Regions from separate parts of the Homo sapiens genome. Here region 2 is linked to region 1. The links come from fine-mapping of genetic effects on gene expression. A gene starts in region 1. The other region holds a variant in brackets. All regions are shown on one strand. Distances are between the middles of the regions.

Region 1 (9,624 bases):
CTTTTCAGTGTCCACTGCTTGGGGAAATGCATCATGTCTAACGCAGAGTTCAAAACCAAGTAAAACCAAACACTATATCTTTTAGATGTACATACCTGTGAGAAAACTGAAAAAAAATATGAGCCAGAGAATGACAAATGCAATAGTCAAGGGAATGTTCCCTCTGGGGAAGGAGAATAGAAATAAATAGATAAGTGACTGGTAATGATGTAGTTTCCAATTGGGTGGTAGGCTTATTATATTGTCTACTACATACAATAAAAAGACTAAATAAAATAAAGACTAAAAAATAAAGTTAAGCCATGCATGGGCTAATGCACAGACTAATAATGACAAAGGGTCACGAATCTATGATCAATTCAATTGTATGCCCCTGAAAAAGGCAACGCATGCAAAATCACAGAGCAATTATGACTTCAGGCAGGGTTTAAATAGATTATTTCTATTTTATTCATCACAGAGGCAGCTACATATATTTGAAAAATATTAGGGCATATATTATGAGGCATATTATTTATCCTATCCATAGATGATATAAAAATCCAAATGGACTATTTATTTATTTTTTATTATTTTTTGTAGGCTGGTCTTGAATTCCTGTGCTCAAGCAATCTGCCTACCTTGGCTTCCCCAAGTGCTGAGATTATGGGTGTGAGCCACTGCACCTGGCCAAGAATCCGAATGGATTCAAAGATACCTTGAAATAATTCCTCAATGCAACACACACACATATGCCAGGGTTGGTCAAATGGGAAGAGAGCCTTGGCCTGAAGACAGGGACCTGGGCTTTCCTCAGCTCTTCTGCCAAGGTATCTGTCCTTTCTTAGTGACTCACTGGGCTGAAGTCTAGAGCATTCCAATGGGTGCTGGGGATGGGTTAGTGAACCAGGACCAGCCCTGCCCTTGGGGAGGCATGGGCTGGTAGATGAGACAATGAATAAAAAGCAACCTGGATGTGACATAGGCCAGCACCCAGCAGATGGGGTCACCAAGGAGCTGCATGTCTGAAGGATGAGTGTGGAGCTGTAAGGCCATTTCCAGTGCAGAAATACAAACAAGGAACAGAGATAGCGAATGGTTTCTGGTAGTGACACATTGTTCTGGAGGGCCTTTCAAATGAAGCAGGAGGGTGAGGATGGGGGACGATGATCATGAAGAACCTTCTTTGCAATACCAAAGATGGTTCCCAGGAATGACATGTTGTTCTGGAGGGCCTTTCAAATGGAGCAGAAGGGTGAGGATGAGGGATAGATGATTACGAAGGACCTTCTTTGCAATACCAAAGAGGTGGTCTCCATCTCAAGGGCAATGGGTTGGCGGCACTCCTATGAGGAAGAGTGACAGGATCGTAATTATAAAACATCGTTTTATCTGCCATGAGGAGACAGGGAGCCCATTTGGGCTGCTGCAGAGATGAGGATGGCCTGGGAGAAGTAAGGGAGGGAAACCTCTTTTGCTTGTCTGGGAATCCTATTGTCCATCTGTAAAACAAGAATGTGGGATTGGATGTCACTGAGAGTCCTTTCTGTCCCCACAGCTTAGTCCCATGGTTTGACATGAAGACACCAGGCCAATTCCTCTGTCCTGCAGTGGAGTAGGATAGGGTGAGGAGGGGGTGCCTGGCCTGGGACCCCTGTCTCCAGTGCTACAGGGCAAAAGTGCAGCACCTTCAGGCCCCTCTGGAACCTCTGTGCCCTCAGCAACCCCGTCGTAATTCCCAGGAAACACCACGACTATTCCAGCTGTGCCTGAATAGACTCCCTCTCTATGTAGTCTAACCAAGGACAGTCCCTTAGAGAAGCAAAGATGCATCCTGTCCCTTTAAATCCTGTTTTCCAGCTGACATTTGAGTGGTAGGGGATGAATTAGAGAGAGAATGTGTGTGCATGGTGAAGATGCATAACTGTGGCTCTGTGTGTGATTCTGTTGTGCCTACATGCCTGTTTGATGCCATGTATTAGGCTTTGCAAGTGTGTCTGAGCTGGCCTGGAACTGTCCACTGCTGCTGCAGCTGACATCAGAGGTGGGCCATGGGATGGGATGCAGGGCACCAGAGGCACCTGCCTTACTCTGCTGCTCATGGTACACAGGGGTCTTCCAAAGTACCTGTCACACTTCCCTGAACCTATTTGCCAACCTGTCCCCAACAGCTTGGGGACACACAAACTGTTCCAAATACTTATCCCCTAATTCCTGGCCTCCAGCTGGGATGGGGCTGGCCTGCAGCGCTGGGAACCCATCACTATCCCAAAGCCTCTAATCTACCTCTGCTTCTTTAGTTAGCAAAAATGCCCCTGTCTTTGTTTGTTTGTACTTGGATTTAGTAAAATTGAGGGAATTTTGGGGCTCTTCCCAATTTCTTCCTCATTTGCCTGTTTGCAGACACTAAAGTGAGCTGTAAAATCAATTTGTTCCCAAACTGCTACCTTTTCTAGTTTTCCCTCTGTCACATCTCGAATGACAACTGTGCCTATAATAATAAGATCCATGAAGAAATGGCCCCACATCCAGGGGACCTCGGGTCTGTGGGTCTGTGGGTATGTGCTCAGACCCCAACTGCTCATTCAGGATGCAGAACAGCCTTTGACTCTGCCACTGAAATGGTCACTTCCCAGAAGAATCTTTGGTATGTGAGCTCTCCCAGTTAAGAGCAATCCAGTTCACCCAGGCCAACCCTCTGTTCTGCAGAAATCTGCATGAGATGAGAAGTCCCTGGCCTCTGGTCATTGGGAGCACACCACCTCTTGACATAGCTGCATCTATAGGTGCTTTAGGCACCACCTAGGTGGTGGCTGCAGTAATGAACAAGGATAATAACTTAAGCTTGGCTTAGGATTTCTCCCTTCCTCTGTGCTGCACCGTGCTGTGTGAAGGGCTATCCCTTGTATATGAGGGACACTATTGCCCTGTGAATACATGGGCTGACCTGGCCAGCCACCCTCTGGCCTGTGTGGGACCCTGGGTAACAGGGCTCAGTCTAGGAGCGGAGGGTAGGACTCTGCCTAGGTCCTCCCCTGCTCCTGGCACTGGATAATATGAAGACCAAGGAACCTCTACCTCTGCAGCTGCCCAGAGCTGAGCCTGGGCTCTCACTGTCCATTCAGGAGGCAGAGGGTAGACCTGGCTGGCTGCTCAGCATCTTGTTCCTGCCAGTCAGCAGGCCCTGGAGAGATTCCAGGGCTCAGCCCTGGTCTTAGTGTGGTCTCACTCGCTCTGCCTGGGCAGTGACAGCACCATTAATATGGAGGCTGGTGAGAGCGGAGCACACAAAAGCAGCCTGCCTGCTGCTTTGCCTCTCTCTGCCCAGGGCATGGTGCTAGTTCATGGTGGTTTCAGCCTTTCCTAGCAGCTTAGGTTTATGTGGAGGATGGCAGGGGAACAGGACTGGTTTCTGAGACTAGGTTCCAGCTCTCCTTGCCCTCTAAAGATAGAAACAAACAACACACAACACACATGTATGTCTTCCCCAGACTCTCCGTCTCATAACTCAGAACCAGAGAGTCTCAGAGCTGAGAGGGGCCTCGGGGAAGATTTCACTGATGGAGAAAGCTCCAGAAGAGAGGGCAAGCATCCTGCCTGGGGTACCATGGCAGGGAGAGCAGAGTCAGAGGCTGGACCAAAATGCAGCCTGAGTGGAAGCATGCCTTACCCCAGGCCCTGCTTCCCGAGCCCAATGCCCCACTCAGCTGGCAGACACAGCAGGCCCGCCCTGGGCACTCTGAGGGTGCAGCCACAGCAGATCACCAAGGAGGCATTCTGGGCCAGGGTGGGGTGGGGGGCCTGGGCAAGTTCTCTGGGGAGGTTTCCAGCTCCTCCACACCTGCTGTGGGGCCTGATTCTCCCCGCCCCTGCCCCGCTACTGGTGTGGAAACCAGGGTCAGGTGAAGCCCTGCCCAAGCCTTGAGGAAGAGAGACACATTCTCACTTCTTCCTTTATTCTTTCTGGTGCCCAAGGCACTAACAACTGGGTGTATAAAGCCTTCCAGATAATTTCAGCCAATTTCTCCCCTAGACTTACTCCATCTGATTAAATGGCCACCCAGTCACTCAAGCAGGAGACCTGATGTTATCCCTGCCTCTGGGCTCCTACTTAAAACCAGCCACCCACTCCAGTTCCTCCTCACCAGGTCTGGCTGCCCCTCCGAAATCTCTCTCCATTCCAGCTTCCACGGTCTGATCCAAGGACTTCAACCCACTCAGGCCACTTGATCTCATTAGACTCATGGGTGTCTCCCTGCTTCCCTCCAGGCCTCCTCGATACATTTCCTTCCCAGAGGCTATGGAGGCTTTTGGAGGATGCAGATCTGCCCATGGGCTCTCCGTCTCTGCCTCCCTCCAGTGTCCTCGCTCAGGGAGGGGAAGCTCAGGCGGAAAGCTGCCGAACTTTGGGTTGCGGCTGTCCCTCGATTAGCAGAGCTGCGGTGTTCTCCTCGGGCAGGCGGGCAGGTGGGCGCGCTTTGCTGCCCCCTGCAGCTCGGGGGCCTGCGATCCCCGCACAGAGCATTCCGTCACCCCAGGCCCACGCTCTCCAGCCCACCGCCCTCCTCTGGACGCCGCGAGTGGAAGAGAGCTGCGAACTGAGAAGCCGTACTTTGGGCAGGGTGGAGGGCCCGGGGGCTGGAGACTGAGCCCCTCCGAGAGGAGCCGCCCGGCCCCGCCCCCCGGCGCAGCCATTGGCCGCGGCGGAGCGGCTGTACCCGCAGCTCCGTGCACTCGGCGGCTCCTCTCCGGGAAGGTCCCCACTTGACAGCTCTGGGCGACCGGAGGTGGCGCCCAAAGGCTGCCCGGGAGATCGGGGCTGGGCTGGCGGGGGCCAGGACCCCGCGCCCTCTCGGCCGCTCACTCTCGCGTCCACTCCCTCGCAGTCACGCCGGGCGCGCACTCCCACTCCCTCTCCGCACGCGGCTGCGGGACGCGATGGACGCGGCACTGCTCCACAGCCTGCTGGAGGCCAACTGCAGCCTGGCGCTGGCTGAAGAGCTGCTCTTGGACGGCTGGGGGCCACCCCTGGACCCCGAGGGTAGGCGGGAGGCGAGCGGTCGGAGGCTGCGCGGGCTCCTTCTCTCGCGCGCTGGGTGCGCCCCTGACCCCGCGCTCCGAGAGCCCCGCGTCCCTGCGGGCCCCTCTGAGCCCTACTGCGCTCTCTCCCGCCGCCAGGTCCCTACTCCTACTGCAACACGACCTTGGACCAGATCGGAACGTGCTGGCCCCGCAGCGCTGCCGGAGCCCTCGTGGAGAGGCCGTGCCCCGAGTACTTCAACGGCGTCAAGTACAACACGACCCGTGAGTGCCCCCGGCCCTCGCTGCCTGCTCTACACCGGCCTCCTGAGAAGGCGGTTTAGGGAGTAAAGAGGATTCCGGACCCAGCGGTACAAAGCTGCTGACGGCCGCGGTACCGCGGACCGCGGGCGTTAAGGACCCCTTACAGTGTTGGGGGCGCGCCTTCTGCTTCTACCCCCAATACAGCGTCTAATCTCAGTAAGCCAGTGATTTGCCCACAATTCCCGTGCTCCATGCGGTGACAGCCCAAAAAGGGGAGAAGGAAATACTTCCTCCTCTTGGAGTGTAAACCTCCTTCCCTCATTGTAGGTTCCCGTTGCCTGAAGTTCCCCATTAGGGCTTCATTGTTTAGACAATGCTTCCCCTGCCCAGGAGGGGGACCTATCCCAGGAGGGCGGATATGCTAAGTCCCAAATCCCCCAGAGTGAGTGCAGTGACCAGACCCTACTACCAGAGGGGAGGAGGAGGGTAGGAGGCAGGAGGGCTGGGGCGAGCGCATGTTTCGTGGGGAGGACATGCAGGCGTAGGTTCTGCTAAGCCAGAGGGTGCGGGGTGTTGCATCTTCCCTAATCCGAGGTCCCAGGACTGACCTGCTGGGCTGAGTCAGGGGCTGTGGGCAGCATTATTCCTGCGCCCCCATAATGAGTGGTGTCTGAATCAGCACCCCAACACCATCTCTCAAGGAGAACAACCTGTGCCTGCCTTCCTCCTGGCAAATCATGGACTGGCTTGAGGCTCTGGGGAAAAGGGCAGTAGAGGTTGCTGGAGTTACACAGCCTCCAGGTGGGGTCGTTCAGTGTGGGTTCTGGGTGTGTGCGTGTGGGTAGGTGCCTGTCTGTGCCCTGTGGAACATGGGATGGGAGCCAGGTGTGTGGTCTGCGGGAGGCTGTGGGGGCAGCAATCACTGCCCCACCTAGAACCCCCCTGATATCTCCAGCCGGACCCCAGTTGTCAAGCACGCTGAGACCCTATCTGGATTGTTTGTCTGAAGCCTCTCATCCTGGAAACATCCTCAGAGTGTCTGTGTCTGATTGGTAGCCCAGCTCCACCTCCACCACACATACACACACACACACACACACACACACACACACACACAAGCTTTCAGAAGCTGAGGCTGAGGGCTTTGCCATGAGAGATGGTTAGAAGGCAAGAGAGATGTACCTGCACCTGATGCCAAGCCGCACTCTCCTGGCTGCACCAGCTGAGGGCTCTGGTGGGCCCAGGGAGCACATGCTTCCCATCCATGATTAAAACAGATCTCCCTAGAAGGAAGTAAGATCCCCAAGCTAGGAGGTGTGCAAGCAGAAGGAATGATTTCCCTGTGCCTTCCTAGTCCTGACCTTATAAAACTGTATTTTTAGGATTCCGTGAGCTGTGTGGGGTGGGGCAATGGAGATCAGCATGCCTGATTCAGACTGGGCCCGGAGATTAAGGGCCATCCAGGGTAAAGTGGGGTGATGGAGCATCTCAGCCCACAGCCTGTGAACCTCAGGGAGCTCTGCTTTCGTTCTTACCCCAGCCTGGGCTATGCCTTGTTCTCCCCGACCAGCCTGGGGGCCCCCCCTTCCCAGGGCCTGGGTCTCTTCTTCATAGCCAAGCTGAGTACAGTAATACTCAGTCAATTTGTGGAATACCCACTATGTGCCAGCCACTGCACAGGCACTGTATTGAGGCTCTCACTCACAATTGCAACAGACAAAAAGAACAGAATGATGAATGCCCTAATTAGGGGGGAAGCACAAGGTCTATGGGATTGGGGTGTGGGGGCGGGGTGACAAGGAAGACTTCCCAAAGGTGCTGCAGACAGCACATATCAGGCCATTCATATCAATTAAGTCTAATGAGAAGCTGATAAAAGGTTGGGGCACCACCCAGGCTGGTAAAAGTAGGGCCAATTAGCCCCTGGTATCTAATGAACAATTTTCTTCATTTAGACCAAAGTGCTGCCTGCACTGCAACTGCTGGAGAATGAGAGGAGCTTGTGGAGGGTGGGGAGCACTTACCACTAACCAGCACCTGGGGTGTGAGGTCAGCCTAGGTGGGAAGAGCAGAGGCTGCTAATGGCTGTGGAAATGCATGATTGATTTCCCTCCTCCCCTTTCTTCACATCAGTGCTGCTTCCTGCTTCTCTGTTTGCCTTTTCCTTGGGATCCTTCCTTTAAAAAGAATGACAGAGGGAGAAACCTCCACGAGAAGCCTAGGGGAAGAACAGGAGCGTTCAGGCTCCACTTCCTGCCCCAATTTTGTTATGCTATAGCCAAACCCGCATTGAAGCCTCATTCCTTAGAGAGCAGGAATCGCCCGGGTGGGGATAGCAGTTTAGATATTAGTCTCTGCGATTTTTCAACTCAGCTGAGCACAGAGAATCTGCCACAAAGCTAAGTGTTGATCATTTTCCAGGTGCCAGCTACCACTGAGAGAGCTTTGTATCCATATCTCAGGCATCCATAATCCCACTCGCCCACACTCCCTCTGAGATACATACTGCTTTTATGCCCATATTGCAGGCAAGAACACTGAGTCTCAGACACATGAAGTAACTTATTGAAAGTCCTAATCAGCTCCTATGCACCAGTGCAGGCAGGTGAATCCACAGCCCTCGCTATTAACCATGGGGCAGTACTCCCTCCACAAGAGGCATTCGGTTTGCGAGGAGAGCTTAGAGGTTTGGAAAGAAGACTCATACCTCCGGCCTGGAGGATCAGGGAGGACTTAGCCCTCTGAGCTGGACTTCTGGGGACAGGTTGGATTTTAGCAGGTGAGTGTAATAGGCACAGGAGAGGCCCTCTAGGCTGAGGGGACTGAGCAAAGGCAAGGAGACAGGCTGGGCTTTGTGCCTTGGGAGGAGTGTGTTGTATGGAGAACAGGGAGTAGGAGAAAGAAACAATGAGGCTGGGGAGGGGCATGGAGGTCAGGTGATGCAGGGCATTCTACAGGGCTTCACCATCTGGAGAGGGAGCCTGGGTGAGCTTGTGAGCAGAGAAGCTCAATTTTGGGAGCACACTGTCCTCTGGAGGGAAAGGAGAAGTAAGGGGATTTCTGCACAGACCCAGGTAGACCGCAGGCTGTAAGAGCAAATGAGGTTGAAGACGCCAGCAACCTTGGGCATTTGAAATTGACAAGATATGGTGAGAGATGGCAAGGTAAAGGTTGGGCACACAGGAAACAGCTGAGCACAGTTGGGGATGTGTTGACTTTGAGGAGCTGGAGGGACAGCTGAGTGGAGATGTTCAGGAAGCAGCTGGTTGGGTGGGGGAAAAGCTCAAGAGAGCACCAAGAGTGGAGATAAGGCGTTTAGAAGTCCTCAGGATGTGGGGTTAGCAAATAGCTACAGTGTGTGAGTTTGGGAGGCTGGGTCAGAGCCTTGAGCCATCTTACCCAGAGTTATTTCCAGATGCAGCAGGGCCAAGGGAAGGGAAGGGACTAGCGCATGGCCACACATGTTAGTCAGTGGCAGAGCCAAGTTAAGCACACGAGTCTCCTTGGGTGTTCTCTACACAACCTGTGCTGGCGCTTCAGTGGCTGAGCTTCCACATGTTTGTACTGTGGTTTAACTCATTTAATCCTTGCACCATCGAGTGACAGAGACATGGCATTATCCTCATTTTACACATGGGGAAACTGAGGTGTGGAGCAATGAAGTCACTTGTAACAGAACAAGGATTCAAACCCAGGTTCTGCTGCCTTTCAAAAAGCAACTCTGCTAGGTTAAGCAGAGAAGAAATTTTTTAAAAAGATATTGGGGAGCTTATGGAATCACTGAGTGGGCTAGAGAACCAGATTTGGGGCCCCAAGCCAAGAACACAGGGCAGAGCTGGCCCTGTGAGGGGACCTCCCTCTCCCTGAAAGGCCCTGCCAACACCACCAGCCCTGGCCACCACTAGTGGCATGATCAAAGATCACTGCAATCTCAAACTCCTGTGCCCAAGCAATCCTCCTGCCTCAGCCTCCCGAGTAGCTGAGACTGCAGGCACATGCCACCACACCTGGCTAATTTTTAAATTTTTTGTAGAGTTGGGATCTTGCCATTTTGCCAGAGCTGGTCTTGAACTCCCAGACTCAAGCGATCCTCCTGTCTCTGGCTCCCAAAGTGCTGGGAGTATAGGCGTGAGCCACTGCACCTGGCCAACCTGGAGTCTTAAGCTTCCTGCAGTTATCTCTGGAGAGGCTTTCTCCCTGTCTCCATCTGGGGGCCTCCAGTTCACTAATTCCCTCGGGTAGGTGCATCTGATGGGTGGGGGAATATGTGGAGCCCCAAATCCCATGCCAAAGCTCTGGCTACAAGGGATCCTGGGAAGTAAGGATCTGGCATTTTAGCTCTAGGCGGGGAGGTAGCCTCGG
Region 2 (9,624 bases), 33 kb before region 1:
TGGATGGATGGATGGATGGATGGATGGATGGATGGATGAATGGATGGATGGATGAATGATGGATGGATGGATGGATGGATGGATGGATGGATGGATGAATGGATGCATGAATGATGGATGGATGGATGATGGATGAACGGATGGATGGATGGATGGATGGATGATGGATGGATGGTGTAGGGAAGAGAAAGAGAGATCAGACTGTTACCGTGTCTATGAAGAAAGGGAAGACATAAGAAGCTCCATTTTGACCTGTACCTTGAACAATTGCTTTGCCCTGAGATGCTGTTAATCTGTAACTTTGCCCCAACCTCTTTGCCCCAACCTTGAGCTCACAAAAACATATGTTGCGTGGAATCAAGGTTTAAGGGATCTACAGCTGTGCAGGATGTGACTTGTTAACAAAATGTTTACAAAGAGTATGCTTCATAAAAGTCATCGCCATTCTCAAGTCTTGATAAATCAGGGGCACAGTGCACTGCAGAAAGCCACAGGGAACTCTGCCCTGGAAAGCCGGGTATTGTCCAAGGTTTCTCCCCATGTGATAGTCTGAAATATGGCCTCGTGGGATGAGAAAGACCTGACCGTCCCCCAGCCCGACACCTGTAAAGGGTCTGTGCTGAGGTGGATTAGTAAAAGAGGAAAGCCTCTTGCAGTTGAGATAGAGGAAGGCCACTGTCTCCTGCCTGCCCCTGGGAACTGAATGTCTTGGTATAAAACCCCATTATACATTTGTTCAATTCTGAGATAGGAGAAAAACCACCCTATGGAGGGAGGTGAGACATGTTGGCAGCAATGCTGCTTTGTTATTCTTTACTCCACTGAGATGTTTGGGTGGAGAGAAACATAAATCTGGCCTACGTGCACATCCAGGCATAGTACCTCCCCTTGAACTTAATTATGACACAGATTCTTTTGCTCACATGTTTTCTTGCTGACCTTCTCCCTATTATCGCCCTGCTTTCCTACTGCATTCCTCTTGCTGAGATAGTGAAAATAATAATCAATAAAAACTGAGGGAACTCAGAGACTCGTGCAGGTCCTTGGTATGCTGAGTGCCAGTCTCCTGGACCCGCTGTTGTTTCTCTATACTTTGTCTCTGTGTCTCATTTCTTTTCTCAGTCTCTCATCCCACCTGACGAGATATACCCACAGGTGTGGAGGGGCAGGCCACCCCTTCATCTGCCGCCCAACATGGGTGCCTTTCTCTAGGGTGAAGGTACGCTAAGAACGTGAGCATTGAGGACAGCCAAGGAGAGATTCCCGAGTATGTCTATGGTCAGCCTTGTGGTAAGCTTGTGTGCTTGGAGGTACCCAGGGTAACAATGGGGCAAACTGAAAGTAAATATGCCTCTTATCTCAGCTTCATTAAAATTCTCTCAGGAAGAGGGGGAGTTAAAACTTCTACAGAAAATCTAATTATGCTATTTCAAACAATAGAACAATTCTGCCCATGGTTTCCAGAACAGGGAACTTCAGATCTAAAAGATTGGGAAAAAATTGGCAAAGAGGTTGGGGCAAAGTTACAGATTAACAGCATCTCAGGGCAAAGCAATTGTTCAGGGTACAAGTCAAAATGGAGTTTCTTATGTCTTCCCTTTCTACATAGACACAGTAACAATCTGATCTCTCTTTCTTTTCCCTACAGATGGATGAATAGATGGGCACTCATCTACAGGATTCTGATACAGTCATGGCATGCACCACATTGTCTCATCTTGGGACTAAACATCCCAGTATGACAGCTAGGAAGGATTCAATTAATCCCTATTCATTAATTCAAGGCAGCATAAGAGATGATCCAGGGTGTGGCTTCAGGAGTCAGGCTGCCTGAATTCAAATTCCTATTCCAAGATTTCCTAGCTGTTCTACCTTGGGAAAGTTGCTATATCTCCCTGAGTCTCAATTTCTCCATTTGCAAAGCAGAAATAATGAGAGTACCAACACATAGCGTGGTTGTGAGAATTAGATTATTTATATTAAGTGCTTAACACAGTGCTTGGTGGATAGAGAAAACTAAAAATAATATTAATTATTATTATAAATTACTATTAATTTCATGGTTGCTTACCGTGTCCTTTTCTTTATTATTAATAATAAGATAACAGAGATACTGCCCAGTAACCCAATTTCCTTCAGTGTTAGAGTCAATGGCCTTACAATGGCCCACAGGGCCCTGCATGACCTTGCTTCATGTCTTGTCTGGCCCTGCCTTCCATCTCCCTCCCTCTTTTCCTCTCTGCTCTTGCCACACTGTGCTTCAAACATGCCAGGCATGCTCCTGCTCAGGCTCTTGGCAGCCGCTCCCTACCAGGCTCATCCTCCAGAGGGCCTCATGACCCACTCCCTCACCTCCTTCAAGTCTTTGTTCTGATATCCCCTTCTCAGTGAGGTCTTCCCCCGCCCCTTTTAAATTGCCCATTCTGCCCTATCCCTGGCACTCTAATCTCCCTTCCTGCCTTAACTTTATCCCCATGGCACCTACCAAGATGTGACTCACCATGCACTTAACTTAGTCATCTTGTTTATTGTCAACTTCCCATAGCAGAATCTCAGATCTATGAGGGCAGTGAGTTATAGCTCTTCTGTTTCCCAGTGCTACAGCAGTGCCTGCGCAGAGTAGGCATTCAATAAATAGTTGTTGAATGAATAAATGATATATTGTGAGGATATTCCAGGCCTTGCTGCCTATGTCCAAAATCCCTAATCAAAGTTGAAAGGAGGCAGACATCCAAATGGAAGTGGAAACAGTTCTCAGAAACCTAGAGAGGCATCATGAAGGAGGTGGCCTTTTCCTTGAGTCTTAGAGGGTGTCCTTAGGTAGAGCTGGGGGTGGGGGACATTCCAGGCTATGGCTGACATCCGCCAAGGCCCTGCAAAGAGGAAGCGTCAGATGATGTGCAGCACAGGGGTCCCTTAAAACAGGCCAACCCTTGTTTCAGGGAGAAAGCTTAGAAAGTGGTACAGGTGACTGTAGTGCCATGAGCTAGGTTTTTGCACAGACTGTAGGGGAGAGTGCCAGGTCAGAGGCAGCCCTGGAAAATCTCATCCCAGCCAGGCAGGCAGACCCAGAGAGGTGCAGCTAGCCTTTCCATCAGCGTGGCAGCAAGAAGGATGGCCTACACTGAGCAGATGCAGAAGTGAGCTTTCCTGCCTGCCCCTTTCTGCACTGAGCCTCAGAACCTCCAGCCCACACTGGAGCTAGAGTGAAGGCACTCAGTTGGGGTGAGTGAAGCCCTTCCTCTAGAAGAGTTACACTCAAAATGGACCCACCTCTTCCACATGGCAGGATGCTGCCCCCTCCAAGCAGGGCACAAAGGAGGCTGCCAAGAAGGCAGAGGCCTGGCCTGGCAGACCCAGCTCTGCTCAGCCCCCACAGATCTGAGCTTGACAAGGGCTGCAGGAAGAAGAAGGGCAGGGCCCTGTGAGTGCTCAGCCTGCACTGAGCCTTCACTCTGGGGTGAGATGGAGGACCCACATTCAGAACCTAGCTTTGCCGCTTAGCTGTGCTGGGCAATACCTTTGAAGTCTCTCAGCCTCACTTTCCTCATCTAGAACAACTGGACCAGGCTGGGTCAATCTGGGGTTTGGAAGTGGGATTCAGAAAAACATTCAGAAACTTGAAAACTGGGGGGCTCAGGGTGCTGTTCTGGGGAAACCTATGGAGTCCATGGACATGAAAAAGCACAGAAAGCTGGTTCACAGGGAGAGGAGGAGGACGCCTGAGGGAGACCAGGGTGCCCTCAGGGAGGCGAGGGAGGTGCAGCCTGGGTTACTGATGGCTCTTCCCAATCCACGGCTGCATTTCCAGCCCGGGGTTACCTGAGACACCCCATGTCCTTATAATGCATTCTCCTTTTTTTCTCAATTTGCTTAGAAAAGATTTCAAGTGTGTTTCCATGTGGGGTAGGGCCCACGTGCTCTTTTACAAAGGGCCCTTGCTACTCCTCTGCTAAAGAGGTGGAAACTATTTCCCCTCCACCCGTCCTGTTGCTGGTTTGCAATGAATGAAGCATCAATGACATTCTGGGCATTCCTGGTCCAGGTATCAAGAAGACCTGGCAGCTTCCACTTTTGCACTCTTGGAGGAGCCAGCTGCCATGTAAAAAGTGTCACTTCCCTGAAACCACTATGCTGTGAGGAAGCCTGAGCTAACCCACTTGGAGAGACCACATAGAGAGAGTTGTCCCTGGCTAGTCCAGCCATCCCAGCCCAGTTTCCAGACAGTAAATGAAGAACCCTTCTTGAATGTTCCAACCCCAGCAGACAACTCATGGAACTGTCCATTTGAAACTGGCCCAATTTTCCCATAGAACTGAAGCTTGAGAAACTTACATTTGTCTTATGAGTTCCTTTCTCAGGAAATCGACCATCAGGCCTCCCAGACAGGATCAAGAAACTGATACATTCCAGATCACCTTATCCAGACAATGAGAGGCCAGACCTCTCGTCTGACCATCTGTTGCCTGTTCACTAGCTCCTCTTCCTTCCCTGCTCTACAAACTCCTAACTTTGGTCAGCGAGAAAGTCAGATTTGAGACTTGTCTCCCATCTTCTGGTGGATGTCACCCATAATAAAGCCTTTCTTTCCTGGCAATACTTGGTGTCTCAGTGATTGGCTTTCTGCGCAGCAAGCAACCTAGGCTGAACCCCTGACATTCGGTAACACGTTGACAGCTGAGCTGCCCCCATTGAGCCCTCCTCAAATTGCAGAAACATGAGCAAATA[T/A]CTTATTTTTTTTTTACCACTACATCTTGGGGTAGTTTGTTATGCGGCAATAAATAATTGAAGCAAGTTGTAGTCAAAAACACTATAATCCTCACTATGCACATCTATTGGGCTCCTGAGTTCAGACAGTGACAGTTCTGATAGTGAGGGACATCCAGTTAGGAGGTGAGGTGAGGGCCCCAGCCTGGTCTCTGGCTGTGCCACTCTGTCATTCTATGTGTCAGAAATGTCTTCCTCACCTGCACCCCAGCCTGCTCCCATGAACATCCCTCCTGGACTAGGTCAGTGATCTGGAACCTCACAGACAACCTGCCCAGAGCCACACCACTCTTCTCCTCCCTTACCAGTGTCTTTACTAAGCACCTAATTTATTCCACAAGCAGTTCCTCTACCAACGGCCAATATGAAAATATGCTCTACCTCATGAGTAAGCAGAGACATGCCAATTAAAGCAAGAATGAGATTCACCTTCCTGCTTATCAGATTGGCAAAATGAAGATTGAGGGTTGTTATAGACTGGGGTGGGACATATTGGGGGCCTCAGGTGCTGGGAGGCAAGCAATTTGAAGGGTGGTTTAGCAGCATTATTGAAATACAAAGTGTGCATAGCCTCCAATTCAGCAATTCCACTTCTGAGTTTACAACTTGGAGAAATATTTACATATGTTACACAAGGGGGCACATGAAAAATGTTCTCTGCAGCAGAGTTCATCACTGTGAAACTGAAAATGTACCACACCTCCACTAATAAGGGCATGTATCCTTGCTCTGGTACAAAAGGCAGCTGTTAACATAAATGGTATTTTATGCCATATTTATGCCATAACATAGGTAACATATAGATGACACACATGTGATATACAGCACAAAACTACTGGCTTGGAAAGTTCTCTAAGACACATTGCGGAGTGAAAAGAGCATCCATAAAGTATATTTGTGTAAACACCCTCACAAAAAATGGAAATACAAAAATTCAAATGTAAATGCAAAATTTTAAGTGTGGAAAGAAACTCAGGAAACTGATAAGAAGTCTTCTCAGGGGAGGCAGATGGTATTGGGAGGGCCAAGGGGGACATTTGTCTTATTTCTATTTTTTAATAATGATAATGTATTTATGTATTTCTTATGTTATTAAAAATAATTCTTGAAGTAAGTATTTATGAGTGTCCATGGAGCTTCCAAGATAGTGGGGGCAGCTGAGAAGAGTCCAGGCTGGGGAGAGAGCAAGGGCTGGAGAGCAAGACTTCGGGGGCTATAGGAGCACAGGGCTGGGAGATTACCGAGGGCTGGCGCAGTTAGGGAAGGCAGCCTGGAGGAGAACCATCCCCCCAACAAAATGCTGGTGGGAGCTGAGTAGCTGATGAGGAGGACCTGTACAAGCCTAAGCAGGGTGCTTTGCTGCTGGGGAGCTGCATAGGGAGCCTCTGGCTCAGACAGGAAATGGGATTGGGCAACCTTGGAGAGTTTGCCCTGCCCCTAGCCGCCCCCATGCTCTGATTGCTTGGGTTGCTCTGCCTGTGAAGCTAGGTAGCCAGGACCAGGACAGCAGGGATGCAGGACTTGATGGGTCACCATTGCTCACGGCTCAGGAGCGCACAAACACACACACAAACACACACACACACACACATGACTTATTCTGCCCCCAGAAAGACTTTATGCTCGTCCTCATAACATCCAACCATTTTGGCACCCATCCATCCATTGACTCCTCCAATGATGATTGAGAACTTGCTATGTGCCTACTTGCTATGGGCCTAGTGCTGTGCCTCAGCCACTAGCCCTCCTTTGGAGGCCCAGGTCACTACAGATGGAAGGACCCTAAGGATTCATCTAGTCCAAACTTCACCCATTTTATAGATAAGAACACGGCCGTGACTTACTCATAGGAAGCAGGGCCAGAACCAGGACTAGTCAGGTGTCAGGTAAATCCCCTTACTCCCTGCACCTATCCTTTCTACCTACATCTTTCCTTCAACTCTGTATCCCAGACCCACATCACACCTGCATGCAGAGAGAACTCAAAAATATTTGGTTCAACAAATGATTCAGTAAATGAATGAGTGAGTTATGAATAAGTAAAAAATAGGTAATGCTGGATTTCTCATCAGAGAGAAGAAAGAAGAAAGAGATCGTCTTCAGGGATATGAAGAGATTTCCGCCCTGCTCTTCAGGCTGAATCTTGGGTGGCACACTTGTATAGGGAGGAGAAAGGTTCTGGGCAGCTGGAGGGCATGTTTGTGCTTCAGTTCTAGATGTTCACTGGATCAGTATGTGCACATCTCTGCCTGTCAGGCCAGACCCACAGCAATGCTGGGAGACAGGAACTTAGTCCAGGGCAATAGTTCTCAAATGCCAGCTTGCATTAGAATAAACTTGAGGACTTTTAAAACACAGATTGCTGCTCCCCCACCCCCAGAACTTCTGATTCAGTGACTCTGAGGTAGGCCCTAGAGTTTGCATTTCTAGCATGTTCCCGGGTGATGCCGCTGCTGCTGATCTGGGATGGCAGAATTTCTCAATCCTGGCTGCACAGTGGAATCACCTGGATAGCCCTGACCCCAGCAGGTGCTCAGCCTGCATCCTTGACCGACTGCCTCAGAATCTCTGGAGAAGAGACCTAGACGGCAGAGCTTCTCAAACCTCACCTAAGGTGAAGGGCCAGAATTTTCTTTCATTACTGTCAATCAATGGTGGATGAATATTTCTGAGAAATACAACAAAAACAGATCTTCAGAAAAAAATGAAACAAACCATAAAGATCTACAAAATGTATGTTCACATTGTACTTATTAGATTCAGCAAACACAAAACTACTCTATCACTTGCCATAAAAGTTTCTAAACACTTACTCTCAATTTCTGTACTTCTTGAAGGCTAGTGGCCAAAATTTCACAAGTTGGCAGCATCTAGGATCATCCTCTTTTGAGTAGTCCTAGGTTAGAACTTCTGTAATCTCAGAGCCGGTCACAAGTCAAAGATGACCAACAGCTTAACCTAGCTTTCTCTGGGGGAGTAATCTCTTGCCTCTCTATCTATATCTACAGCCTCAAATCTACATGGGCATCAAATCCTCTTCCCTGTATCTATGGGGTTTGTCTTTATAAGGGCCAGAGTTGGGGGATTTTCTGAAATATTTTACAAAACACTGGCCAGGTACAGTAGCTCAAACCTGTAATCCCAACACTTTGGGAGGCCGAGGTAGGTGGATCACTTGAGGCCAGGAGTTCAAGACCAGCCTGGCCAACATGGTAAAACCCCATCTCCACTAAAAATATAAAAATTAGTCAGGCATGGTGGTTCATGCCTCTAGTCCCAGATATTTGGGTGCCTGAAGCATGAGAATCACTTGAACCTGTGAGGCGGAGGTTGCAGTGAGCCAAGATCGCATCACTGCACTCCAGCCTGAGTGACGAGCAAGATTCTGTCTCAAAAAATAAAAAGTAAAAACACTGCAATGCAGAAAATCACTGGCAGAAGGCTTGCTTAGAGAGGTACTCTTTTGTTGTAGTTAGATTCCTAGTTGGGAAGTTAGCAGTTCTGGGTTCTGGTTTTAAATCTACCACTAACTAGCTAAGATACAAATCATATTTCTCAGGGTGTCATGCATCCTCCCTGAGAACTGGGTAGAAAAGCATCTCTGGTTCCTGCAATGTCATCACCATGGTTCTAATGATTAGAAACACATATTACCCATGGGATCAGTCATCAATGACCAGGAAGAAAATCATGGTGAGAACTTCTCAGAAAGAATCCCCTGGTTGGCTGGGTGTGGTGGCTCACGCCTGTAATCCCAGCACTTTGGGAGGCCGAGGTGGACGCATCACCAGAGGTCGGGAGTTCGAGACCAGCCTGACTAACATGGAGAAACCCTGTCTCTACTAAAAATACAAAATTAGCCAGGCATGGTGGCGCATGCCTGTAGTCCCACTCAGGAGGTTGAGGCAGGAAAATCATTTGAACCTGGGAGGCAGAGGTTGCAGTGAGCCAAGATTGCGCCATTGCACTCCAGCCTGGGCAATGAGAATGAAATTCCATCTCAAAAAATAATAATTAAAAAAAAAAAAGAATTCCCTGGTTAACTAGTCACATGGCTTAGAGGTTATTAAACTGATGGCTGCTGTCCCTCCCTAGCAGTGTATGCTGGTGACTCAGCGCCAAACGTGCCAACTTGAGCTGTGATTTCTTTTCCCAAAGGCAGTATGTTGATTCTCTGACCTTTGAATCTTTTATTTGGTCACAGCCATGGATAAAGAAATGAACCTGGAGAAGCAGCGTAGCCTCTTCCCTAGAGGGACTTAAGTCCCAGCTCTGACAGGGACCAACTGTAGAAGCCTGAGCAAGCCCTTCCCCTCTCTGGGCCTCACTTTGCACATCTAAAATGAGGGGAATTAAGCTAGATGTTCTCTAAAGTTACTTGCAAAATTCTCTATTTTTGTATACAGTATTAATTTGCCAACTCTTGCTAGATTTTCATCAACAGTGCAAATATCTGTAAAAGATCAAAGTCACTTCTGGTGCCAATCATCAGGAGCAGGGTGGCCAGGGTGACCTCTTCCATCCAAGCCATATTTTGCTTTCACTCTTCCACTTGAAGCCTGTCACAGTAGCAGCTAGTCTTTGACTGAGGGTGTACGATGGGCCAGGCGCTGATTTAACCACTGGGCCTAGATTCATACATGTAGTTCCCCATGATCCAAAGAGGTAGGTACCATGAAAGGTACTATTGTCAGCTCCACTTTACAAAGGGAATTGTGAGCCAGAGAACGGAAGTCACTCACCCAAGGTCACACAGCTAGAGCACAGCAGACAGAATTCTCACCAGGCAATCTGGCTTTAGTCAATTCCTATTGAGCTCCTATTATGTGCATATAATAAAAGACACTGCAAAGAATC

Which allele goes with the higher level. Alleles are on the strand shown, and positions count from the first base shown. SD is a standard deviation of normalised expression in the study named.
As copies of T replace A in region 2, the expression in subcutaneous fat of the gene that starts at base 4,742 in region 1 goes down (large effect, 0.87 SD a copy in TwinsUK).

Evidence for each region. PIP is the estimated chance that this variant, and not a neighbour inherited with it, causes the effect. A credible set is the group of variants that fine-mapping cannot tell apart.
Region 2: its variant is the best candidate, but not a certain one, in a credible set for the expression of CRHR2 in subcutaneous fat (TwinsUK, PIP 0.69).

The regions. Positions count from the first base shown.
Region 1 is chr7:30,677,574-30,687,197 of GRCh38, reverse strand. CRHR2 (corticotropin releasing hormone receptor 2) reads left to right here and starts at 4,742. Exons shown (of 12, transcript NM_001883.5): 1 at 4,742-5,020; 2 at 5,158-5,283. The coding sequence starts at 4,918. It overlaps LOC124901608 (a long non-coding RNA gene), which reads right to left and starts at 4,579. Exons shown (of 2, transcript XR_007060275.1): 1 at 4,125-4,579; 2 at 427-1,481. RefSeq lists a silencer at 4,671-4,720.
Region 2 is chr7:30,710,141-30,719,764 of GRCh38, reverse strand. The region is part of intron 1 of LOC105375220 (a long non-coding RNA gene); the gene reads right to left. LOC105375219 (a long non-coding RNA gene) reads left to right here. Exons shown (of 4, transcript XR_927156.3): 4 at 1,649-4,597. Among named protein-coding and RNA genes, the nearest start is that of CRHR2, 32 kb to the right of the region's middle. The variant T/A (reference allele first, on the strand shown) is at 4,729.